Homo sapiens: one gene and its partners. The protein of the gene in region 1 interacts with the protein of each later gene in a pairwise test. Each region holds a gene or a part of one and is shown on either strand. Other genes may lie near its edges. The genes, in order: TDRD7, DLC1 and MLH3.

Region 1 (2,424 bases):
GAGGCATGATCAAAGTACGATGGAGTAGAAAGGGGTACCAGAGAAAGCTTCATGGTTGGCCCAGGAGGTCAGGCAGGACACTGACAAGCAAAAATGATGGGAGGAGAATGAGATGCAGGTTGACAGAATGGAATAAGCAGGGGTTCAGTGACCAAATAAAGGTACAGTGTGGCAGGGAGTGGTAGATAAGGAGGTTGGGTAGGAGGATTGTAGAAAGCCTGGGTCCTAGCTGGACTCTGTGGGCAATGAGAAGAGAAGCCACTCAAGATTTGGGTTGAGGGTCACGTTGGTTTGCCTGGGCTGCTCCTCTAGAAATGCTGATGTGTTAAGACTCAGGATAAGTCCTCACATGCTTTGGTGATCACTTGCTTTGAGATACACTACTACATCAGGGTAGAGTTAAGTCATAATAGTCTCAGCTTCACTGGAGAAGAACCCAGCTCTGCAAGGAAGACAACATGAAACGGAAGCTTTCATCTTAAGATCATGAAGCCTAGAAATTAAAAGGTAGTCAGCTTTTATATTGATAAACATTTTTATTCTAATATTATAGTAATAATTCAAGTACAATTTTCTTTGAAAAGTCAACTCTGTTAAAACAAAACTTGTTAAATATCTTTCATCAAACATAAGCATATTCTTTTCAATCCCCCACAGCAGTCAGAGCCATGTAGCAGAGTTAAGATTTTTTTTAAGCCTACTACATTTTGTTATTGCTAAAAAATCTGAATTAGTTGTCAAGGTTTCAGAGGCAGTCATTAATTAACTTTTGAAAGCTCTATCAGATACTCTGACATAAAATCATGAATCCAGGTATCGGTGTCTGGCAACGATGTGTCCACTAAGTAGACCACTACTTTCCGGTCCCAAGGGTTAGCATTTTCAATGACTGTCTGCACCAGTGCCACCAGAGGTTTCTTCTCCACATGATTTCGAAACACCATAGAAGCCTCCTCAGACCACTGGTTGCACTTCACTCCTAGGAGGAAGAGAGGAAGAAGAGGGAGCAGTGAGGAGTCAAAGGAGCTTTTCTTTGATCCATTATGATGGAAAATTATTTAGTCAATTCCAAAGTAACTTAAGCATCCCAGGTTAGACTTGCCTGAACTGAAAAACGGTTACTGAACAATCTTAAAACACTCCAGCTTATAGTTTTTCTACTCTGAATGGAGTCACTCTGGAAATCTTTAACTAAAAAACAAGTTTCATTTGAGACTTAACATTGTATTATAAAATGAGGTAATAATGACTACTGTACAACCCCCATAAAGTATATGCATATTTAAACTAATAACAGAATAAAATATCAATATCATATTAAATGACATTTCTTTCATTAAAAATTTTTTTTCTGATGGACCAAATATCATAAAAAAAAAGAATTATTGTATGATTCATTTACAGTATAGTTATTTAAAATTATACACAGCATCGTGGGAAAAGCACTGAATTGAAAGTCAACAGACTCAGTTACTATTCCCAGCTTTTCCTCTATCGGGTGGTGTGGTCTTAGGCAAATCAGCTGATCTCACCTATGATAAAAGAACCTGATTGGATCAGATCATGAGAAATCAAGTTAGAGAATTCTAAATTCGATTTTAAAACAAAACTGGGACAAGAAAGTACACATTGGCCGGGCACAGTGGCTCACACCTGTAATCCCAGCACTTTGGGAGGCCAAGGCGGGCAGGTATCTTGAGCTCAGGAGTTCGAGACCAGCCTGGGCAACATAGCCCAGCCCTGTCTCTACAAAAAATACAAAAATTAGCCGGGTGTAATGGCCTGTGCCTATAGTCCCAGCTACTCAGGAGGCTAAGGGAGGAGGATCGCTTGAGCCTGGGAGGTCAGGGCTGCAGTGAGCCGTGACTGCATCACTGTACTCCATCCAGCCTGGGTGACAAAGTGAGACCCTCTCGAAAAAAAAAAAAATATATATATATATATATACATATATATATACATATTTCAAGAAATACAATTAAGTCCACATATACTGGATTACATAAACTGTAAATTATGCCCCAAAGTAATTAAGATATGGAAATTTCAGACATAATTTTGGAAGACTTGCTATCTATATAGCAAATGGGCTAAATTCTTTGATTATTTATTTCCCACAAGAGAAGCCTAGAAATTTCATTTTATCTGCAGCAGCCCTGACAATCTTTGAGCCATGTTATTTAAGAAGAAAAAAGGTAACCCATTGGTAAGGTAAAAGATGATTCCACAGTATGGCTCCCTTTCTTCTAGGATTCAGAAAATTTTGTGCATGGCCATGGTGCACTGATGCAAAGAATGCCCAGGTCAAGGCCAGATGTAATGAAGCAACAACTCACTGGTGTTGTGGGAAGTCAGGAACCCCAAATGGAGGGACCGGCTGAAGCCATGGCAGAAGAACATAAATTGTGAAAATTTCATGGACAT
Region 2 (3,659 bases), on another chromosome or scaffold:
AGACTACGTTGTTTTAAGGTGAGCGCTTCCCAGTTGTTTTTTTGTGACAAGGATGACTCCATATATGAACCAAGCCTATATGTCACTGATCTTACAAGATGGTATAATTATTTAAAGTAGAGGCCGGGCATATGGTGGCTCACACCTGTAATCCCAGCACTCTGGGAGGCCAAGGTGGGAGGATCACTTGAGGCCAGCAGTTCAAGACCAGCCTGGGTAATATAGCAAGACCCTATCTCTACAAAAAAATTTTAAAAATCAGCTAGATGTTGTGGTGCATGCCTGTAGTCCTAGCTACTCGGGAGGCCGAGGCAGGAGGATCCCTTGAGCCAGGAGTTTGAGGCCGCAGTGAGCTGTGAGCATGCCACTGTACCGCAGCCTGGGCAACAGAGCAAGACCTTATTTCTGAATAAACAAAACAAAACATATGCTTCCAGAAAAGTAGTGAACACCTTCAAATATGGAAAACAGATCTACATTTATTCTAGCAGTGTGTTCCTCGCTGAGAATGGTCTGAACTCTTTGGTAACTGAGCTCAGAAAGAGAGGCCCCTTCCAATGAATATGCTCATTCGTAGCAGATTTTTGCCCCTTTTAGGATAGATTTTCTTGTCAGAAACAGCTAGTGAATGAATAAGCCAGGAAATAACATTTGAGTCCCAAGGGAGATGTGGTTAAGGCTGATGTATGTGTAATTCATAAATTCTCTGGAGATATTACTGAAAGAAGAATTCCAAAAATCTTTGTGGAAATGTCACATTGGAAGTCCAGACCTTTTCAAACAGCCAGCGCTCCTTTAGGTGTCTGTGTTCCAAGACATTTGTGAAATAGAAAAATGGTTTTAAGCTACACTTCAAATGGGCTCTTTTTTCAAAGAGGAGACTGTCTGAGCACATAAACCCTCTGTAACAACGGCTCTGTACAGAGTTCCTCATTCAGCAGTCCTTGTACAGTGTCTTCGTGCATGTAATGCTGCTCTAACAGAATCTCACAGACCAGGCAATTATAATGAACAGATATTTATTTGGCTCATGGTTCTAAAGGCTGGGAAGTTCAAGATCAAGTAGTTGCATCTGGTTAGTTGGTTGGTTGTTTGATTGATTTGGGGACATGGTTTCATTCTGTCACCAAGGCTAGGGTGCAGTGGCACACTCATGGCTGCTGAAGCCTTCACCTCCCAGGCTCAAGCAATCCTCCCCCCTCAGCCTCCCAAGTAGTTGGGACTGCAGGCATGTGCCATCACACCTGGCTAATTTTTTTGTTTCTGGTAGAGACATGGTGTCACCATATTGTCCAGGCTGGTCTCAAAACTCCTGGGCTCAAGCGATCCTCCTACCTCAACCTCCCAAAGCGCCGGGATTACAGGCATGGGCCACCCACCATGCCTAATGAGGGTCTTTTTGCTGTGTCATCCCATAGTGGAAGGGCAAAGAGAGGGCAAGGGAGAGCAAAAGAGCAAATGTGCAGCCTCAAGCCATTTTTATTTTTATATTTATTTATTTTGAGATGGGGGGGTATCACTTTGTTGCCCAAGTTTGAGTACAGTGGCATGATTACAGCTTAAGCAATCCTACCATCTCAGCCCCCGGAGTAGCTGAGACTACAGGAGCACACCACCATGCCCGGCTAATATTTTTTATTTTTAGTAGAGATGAGGTATCACTATGTTGTCCAGGCTGGTCTTGAACTCCTGAGCTCAAGCAGTCCTCCCTCCCCAGCTTCCCAAAGTGCTGGGATTACAGGCGTGAGCCATGGAACCCAGCCTTAAGCTCTTTTATAATTGGCATTAATCCAGCTCCCATTAGGCCCCACCTCCCAACACTGTTGTATTGGGCATTCACTTTCCATCACATGCTTTTTGGGGAACACATGTACACCATAGCAAGTAGTTTAGAGGATGCCATTTACCTAGGCCTGGGTCACACAGCATGGCCACTGAGCCTGACCCGTCACCACACTGCAAATAGTGAAGAGTGAAGCACGATTTTAAACTTGGCTTCTATGAAATTCCATCATTTCTGCCTCTGGTTTTGTCTCTACAGAACCTGGAGGACTAATTTACCCAAAGGAGCCTGTGCCCTTTTACTAACCTCTGTGGATCACGATCGCGCACCTGTGGTGGGTGTGAGGGTTAATGTGCTCTTGTCCAGGTATTTGATTGAACCCTGTGGGCCAGGAAAATCCAAACTCACCTACATGTGCAGAGTTGACTTAAGGTATGTTCTGATTCTGATTTTTTTATATGGTGAGGGTCATGAAGGAAATTCTGACTTTTTGTCTAATGCAAAGAATGCCTTAAACAAACACGTCATTTTTTCTTGGTGACTTCATGAAGAATGGTGTTTAGAAAGTAGCATTTCATGTTTGTTGGTCTTTCAGCGACCACTTCGTAATTTGGTTCCCTTAGAAAATGTGGTTCTAAAGCAAAGCAAATATGGTAGCTCGGCCATGAATTCAAAGGCATGGGAAATGATAGATTTTATGCATTTGAACTAGCAAACAGATGTTTCTCATTTTATTTCCATGCTTTCTAACTTAAATAATTCATCAGCTTTTCTTTCTTTTCTCTGATAGGGGCCACATGCCAGAATGGTACACAAAATCTTTTGGACATTTGTGTGCAGCTGAAGTTGTAAAGATCCGGGATTCCTTCAGTAACCAGAACACTGAAACCAAAGACACCAAATCTAGGTGATCACTGAAGCAACGCAACCGCTTCCACCACCATGGTGTTTGTTTCTAGAACTTTTGCCAGTCCTTGAAGAATGGGTTCTGTGTCTAATCCTGAAACAAAGAAAACTACAAGCTGGAGTGTAGGAATTGACTATAGCAATTTGATACATTTTTAAAGCTGCTTCCTGTTTGTTGAGGGTCTGTATTCATAGACCTTGACTGGAATATGTAAGACTGTGCAAAAAAAAAAAAAAAATTTATGTGTATTCTTATTCAAATTGCTTCTGAGAAGCAAAACTCTTTAAATACATTATGGAAGATAATGAAGATACTTCATTCTCTTGTGATATCAGTGTATGCGTACCTGTGTCGCTTTATTTGCAGTGTGTTGAGGGACTGGTGTATCCACTGGAATAGTTGGTACTCTTGGATGTGTTTTCTCACCAAGATGAGCAAAGAAAGGTTTGCACAGAGGAGTGTGAATGTGTGTTTGTTGCTGGCTGAATGGCAATAGATGTCTAAGGTGGATTCAGTGTCTGGCACACTGAGACACCTCCAAGAAGGAGATTGATGCATCAGGTTCAGTTTAACCTGGAATATCTGACTACCCCTGAATCCACCCAGAAAGGGGGCCCAACACCCTTGTCCATTTATGGGTATTTTTTTTCGAAGTTATTAAGCATATTCCTTTTCCACGAACCTCTTCTGTACTTTGATTGTAATAGGTTGGCTCTTACACCCATTCCAAATGCAGTTTATTTTTAGACCCGATTGCAAATAGTGATGTAGTTTTAACCAGTATGGATTAGTTCAGGGATGAACTGCTCCCTCTAGCCTTACTGGCTCTGATCCACAGGGTTTTGTTTTGTTTTGTTTTGTTTTTTGTTTAAGTCGAGATATAAAAACTGAACACGATAACACTTACTCTTAAATCAAGCATCAACACTTTTTCCCTGTTAGAATTCTTTGCATTTTTGTGTTTGTAAC
Region 3 (3,659 bases), on another chromosome or scaffold:
AGGCAGAGCCTGCAGCAATCCATGCCTCCCTGTGAGCCACCATGAGAACAGAATCACTGGTCTAAAAGGAACAAAGGGATGTTCACTGTATGCCTCTGAGCAGAGAGCAGCAGCAGCAGGTACCAGCACGGCCCTGACTGAATCAGCCCAGTGTCCCTGAGCAGCTTAGACAGCAGGGCTCTCTGTATCAGTCTTTCTTGAGCAGATGATTCCCCTAGTTGAGTAGCCAGATGAAATTCAAGCCTAAAGACAATTCATTCATTTGCATCCATGGGCACAGAAGGTTGCTATATAGTATCTACCTTTTGCTACTTATTTAATGATAAAATTTAATGACAGTTTGATTGGTTGCTTGGTTTGTTATTTGAAGGGTGTGATTTTTGTTTTTGTACAGTTTTTTTTCAAGCTTCACATTTGCGTGTATCTAATTCAGCTGATGCTCAAGTCCAAGGGGTAGTCTGCCTTCCCAGGCTGCCCCCAGGGTTTCTGCACTGGTCCCCTCTTTTCCCTTCAGTCTTCTTCACTTCCCTATGCTGCTGCTTCATGTGCTACATCTCAGACTTAAAGAGTTTCTCTACTACAGTGAAAACATTCTCTAGGGTCTTTCATCAGGCCTTTAGTTATTTTAGGGATAAAAACTATTGATAAAAAGGACAAGGATAGAACAGAGAAAATTTAAAGTCCTGTTCCGGGTTTTTTGTTATGTTTTCTTTAAAAACTCAGAGACTGATGTTCAATATCCCAAACCAGTAAAATGGTGAAAATACTATGAGCTTGTTTTTTAAAATATGATTTTTTTTGGTACTTTATAAAGTATCTCTTTATGTGAAAGCAATTGTCATATCAAAACACAGCATACATACGTTCAACCTAACCAAATATCTTTACACTTTTTCTTTCAGGAGACAAGGGTTCTTTGGGTCCCTTTCAAACGGTATCTTGGTGTTATTACATTATGCCTATCTATTGCCCTTATAATATCACTTGGGACCAGGACTGATCGTTCTGCAAATGCTTGTTATGCCATTCTCAATCTATTTTTCCCGCACCTTTTCACATGATTTGTGGTTAATAGGACTCAACAGACTAAAATTGCATAGTAGAAAAAAAATGCAAAAAGCCAGCTGGTAATGTTTATTGCAACTGGGGTGCTATACAATTAGTAAGATGATGCAATGAGAATTTCTACTTTTGTATTTCCTGACCAGCCTGCTCAAAGTGGCTTTTATATCAATTGAATGATTTTCCTCATTTTTTAATACAGGAAACCAATTCGTGCTCATGGAAGAAAAGTTCCTTTGCCAGCAGCCTTGAAGTGAATCTTACAGGAGCAATGAAAGTATTGCATTCATTAGCGTCTGCCCCAGAGAAGGTTCAGAGAAAACCTTCACTTGTTTTCAAGGGGATCCTTGTAGATTTACGTAATTGGAATCCTGAAGAACAGGCCCTACTGTCTAAAAAATGGCTTTTATTCTTCTAAATACATATAAACGGATGTTTTATAGATGGGAAGACATGACCTTAGAAAGGAGAGAGTTTTCAGAGGATTTGCCAGGCTGTCAGGGGCTCTGCCTCCAGGCCCAGTGTGGCAGTGTGGCCTCAGGGCCTCCGCCTCCCTGCTTGAGGGCTGCATGGAGGCCAACTGTCCTGGGAGTTGTAAAAATCTTTTAAGGCCAGACCAATTTGAGGGATTTTAAAAAGTGTCTCAGTGCCTCTTATGATTTCAGAAGGTTTTGCTATATGTAATCCCAACTACTGTTTTCTTGAGAGTAGCAGAGGATTAGAAAAAGTCCTCCATAAATTATGTAACCGGCCTTCCTGACTAGCCTGACTCAAGCAATGTAAGAGATAATTATTCTGTTTTCATAATTTATAAGTGTGGGGGCATGCCTCAGCATAAAAACAACCTATTAGGGAAAAATATCTAATAGATTACCTTTATCGCCTGTTAGGGTTTTATGTTGTTTTTAACTCAGATGCCATAAGAACAAAGATACATGTAATTTATAATAGTAATCATTAATACCTATATTGTGCTTTAAGGTTTACAAAATAATTTTTCTCATACTTTATCTTAGTTTAGTTTCTTGACAGTCCATGAGGTAAGGTGGTAGCTTTATCACCATTTTACAAAGTGGGAAACGAAGGTTCCTCTTAGGAACCTAGTTGTCACCTTTGTATAATAAAACTTCGAAGCTCGGAGCTGTTAACTGGTTTGCTGAAGGCTTAGCTGTAAGAGCCAGAATTCAGACCCAGGTCTGAGTGACTTCAAACTGCACAGTCCTTCCCATTATTACCCATATGCTATCCCTTATATTTTTAATTTATTAGGAATTCATTCATTTATAAACTTGGTGATTCACCTTTATTAGATTCTGGTCGCTGAAGGCTTTAGTAACTTCAGAGTAAAACTTGAGAGATGAGATGTAAAATGCAGCCATTCTTGAGAGTTCCTTTTTCTGTAACATTCATCAACACTTCATTGAGAAGTGAAGGTTCCTATGGCTGTCTCTACCTTCAAGAGGCTTAGCTTTAGTCACTGAGAAAGACAAGGAAACTAATGATAGAATATAGTAGCTTCTTCTGGCGTTAGGTATCACAGAGTCACAGCTAGTTACAGCTAGCCCTTTATTATTGAAAGAAGAGGAGCTAGCAGTCCCACTATCAGAATTAAGACTAGAGATGGTAATAGGAGCTAGTATCAGAAAAGCTTAAGGCAAAGCATAAAGTGTAGGCTAGAATGAAGCTGGAGAATGGGGAGGGGGCTTGGGTAACATCCAGAACCTGGCTGGGGACCTGGAACTACATGAGATGTAAGAATGGAGAGGTTCTAGCAGTCAGAGGTCAGGTACAAATGAACAGCTGGGATCTGCGCATGGCAGACAGTGAAAAAACCCAGGCAAGCAAAATGGTCAGAGCAGAAAGGGGCCCAAGGCCACGTTCTTGAGATGTGGAGGGGGCTGAGGAAGCCACGCCAAGTAAGGACAGATGCAGCTCAGCAGTTCCTAGCGAGCCCTGACAAGCCAGCTCAGCTGAAGCTTCGGGTGGGAGCCAGTCATGGCACAGTGGAGTGAAGGAAGAGCAGTTTCAGGCACCCAAAACCTGACCCCCACGACCTGTTTTCCACCTGAAGAGCCACCCATTCCATCCAAACCCTTGGCAAAAGTCTGCTAACAGAGAGAACCGGCCAGTATGCTGGCCAGTCGCGATCATGCCTGTCTTTACCCTCTAAGCTGAAGCTGCTCATCAACGGTGAGATGGCAAAAAGGTGGGTCCAGAAGAGGGGAAAAGAAGGGAGTCTGTGAAAACAAAATGCTGAAGAATCTGCATCAAATAAACCCTTCCTTCCTTCCTTTTTCCTTCCATCCCTCTCTTCATTCAGCAAATCTTCAGTGAGTTCCTTTCTAAATGTATTGTATCAGAACTTGTGGGGGATATAAAGAAAAAAAAGAGGTTATCACATGGCTTAGGATGTTTCCAACCCTTGGATCATTTTCACCCCAGGCCCATTAGTTACAGAGCACTCAGTCTTACCCAGAAGCATCGGATATAGTCCAGGCAACCGGATCCAAGCGTGTGGGAATCGCAGTGTGCTGCATGTGGGAATCTATCAGGCCAGGATGATTCAAGCAGCAGCCTGCAGAAGTGGGATTTGGCCA

What was found.
Region 2: the proteins of TDRD7 (region 1) and DLC1 interact in a two-hybrid assay, tested with the Homo sapiens proteins (one large-scale study listed by BioGRID and IntAct).
Region 3: the proteins of TDRD7 (region 1) and MLH3 interact in a two-hybrid assay, tested with the Homo sapiens proteins (one large-scale study listed by BioGRID and IntAct).

What each region holds. Positions count from the first base shown.
Region 1 is NC_000009.12:97,494,218-97,496,641, reverse strand, and holds the end of TDRD7 (tudor domain-containing protein 7), read right to left. Parts: intron 980-2,424; coding exon 759-979; 3' UTR 517-758; downstream 1-516. UniProt on the Homo sapiens protein: Component of specific cytoplasmic RNA granules involved in post-transcriptional regulation of specific genes: probably acts by binding to specific mRNAs and regulating their translation.
Region 2 is NC_000008.11:13,084,846-13,088,504, reverse strand, and holds part of DLC1 (rho GTPase-activating protein 7), read left to right. Parts: coding exon 1-18; intron 19-2,041; coding exon 2,042-2,215; intron 2,216-2,573; coding exon 2,574-2,694; 3' UTR 2,695-3,659. UniProt on the Homo sapiens protein: Functions as a GTPase-activating protein for the small GTPases RHOA, RHOB, RHOC and CDC42, terminating their downstream signaling.
Region 3 is NC_000014.9:75,013,468-75,017,126, reverse strand, and holds the end of MLH3 (DNA mismatch repair protein Mlh3), read left to right. Parts: coding exon 1-45; 3' UTR 46-3,352; downstream 3,353-3,659. UniProt on the Homo sapiens protein: Probably involved in the repair of mismatches in DNA.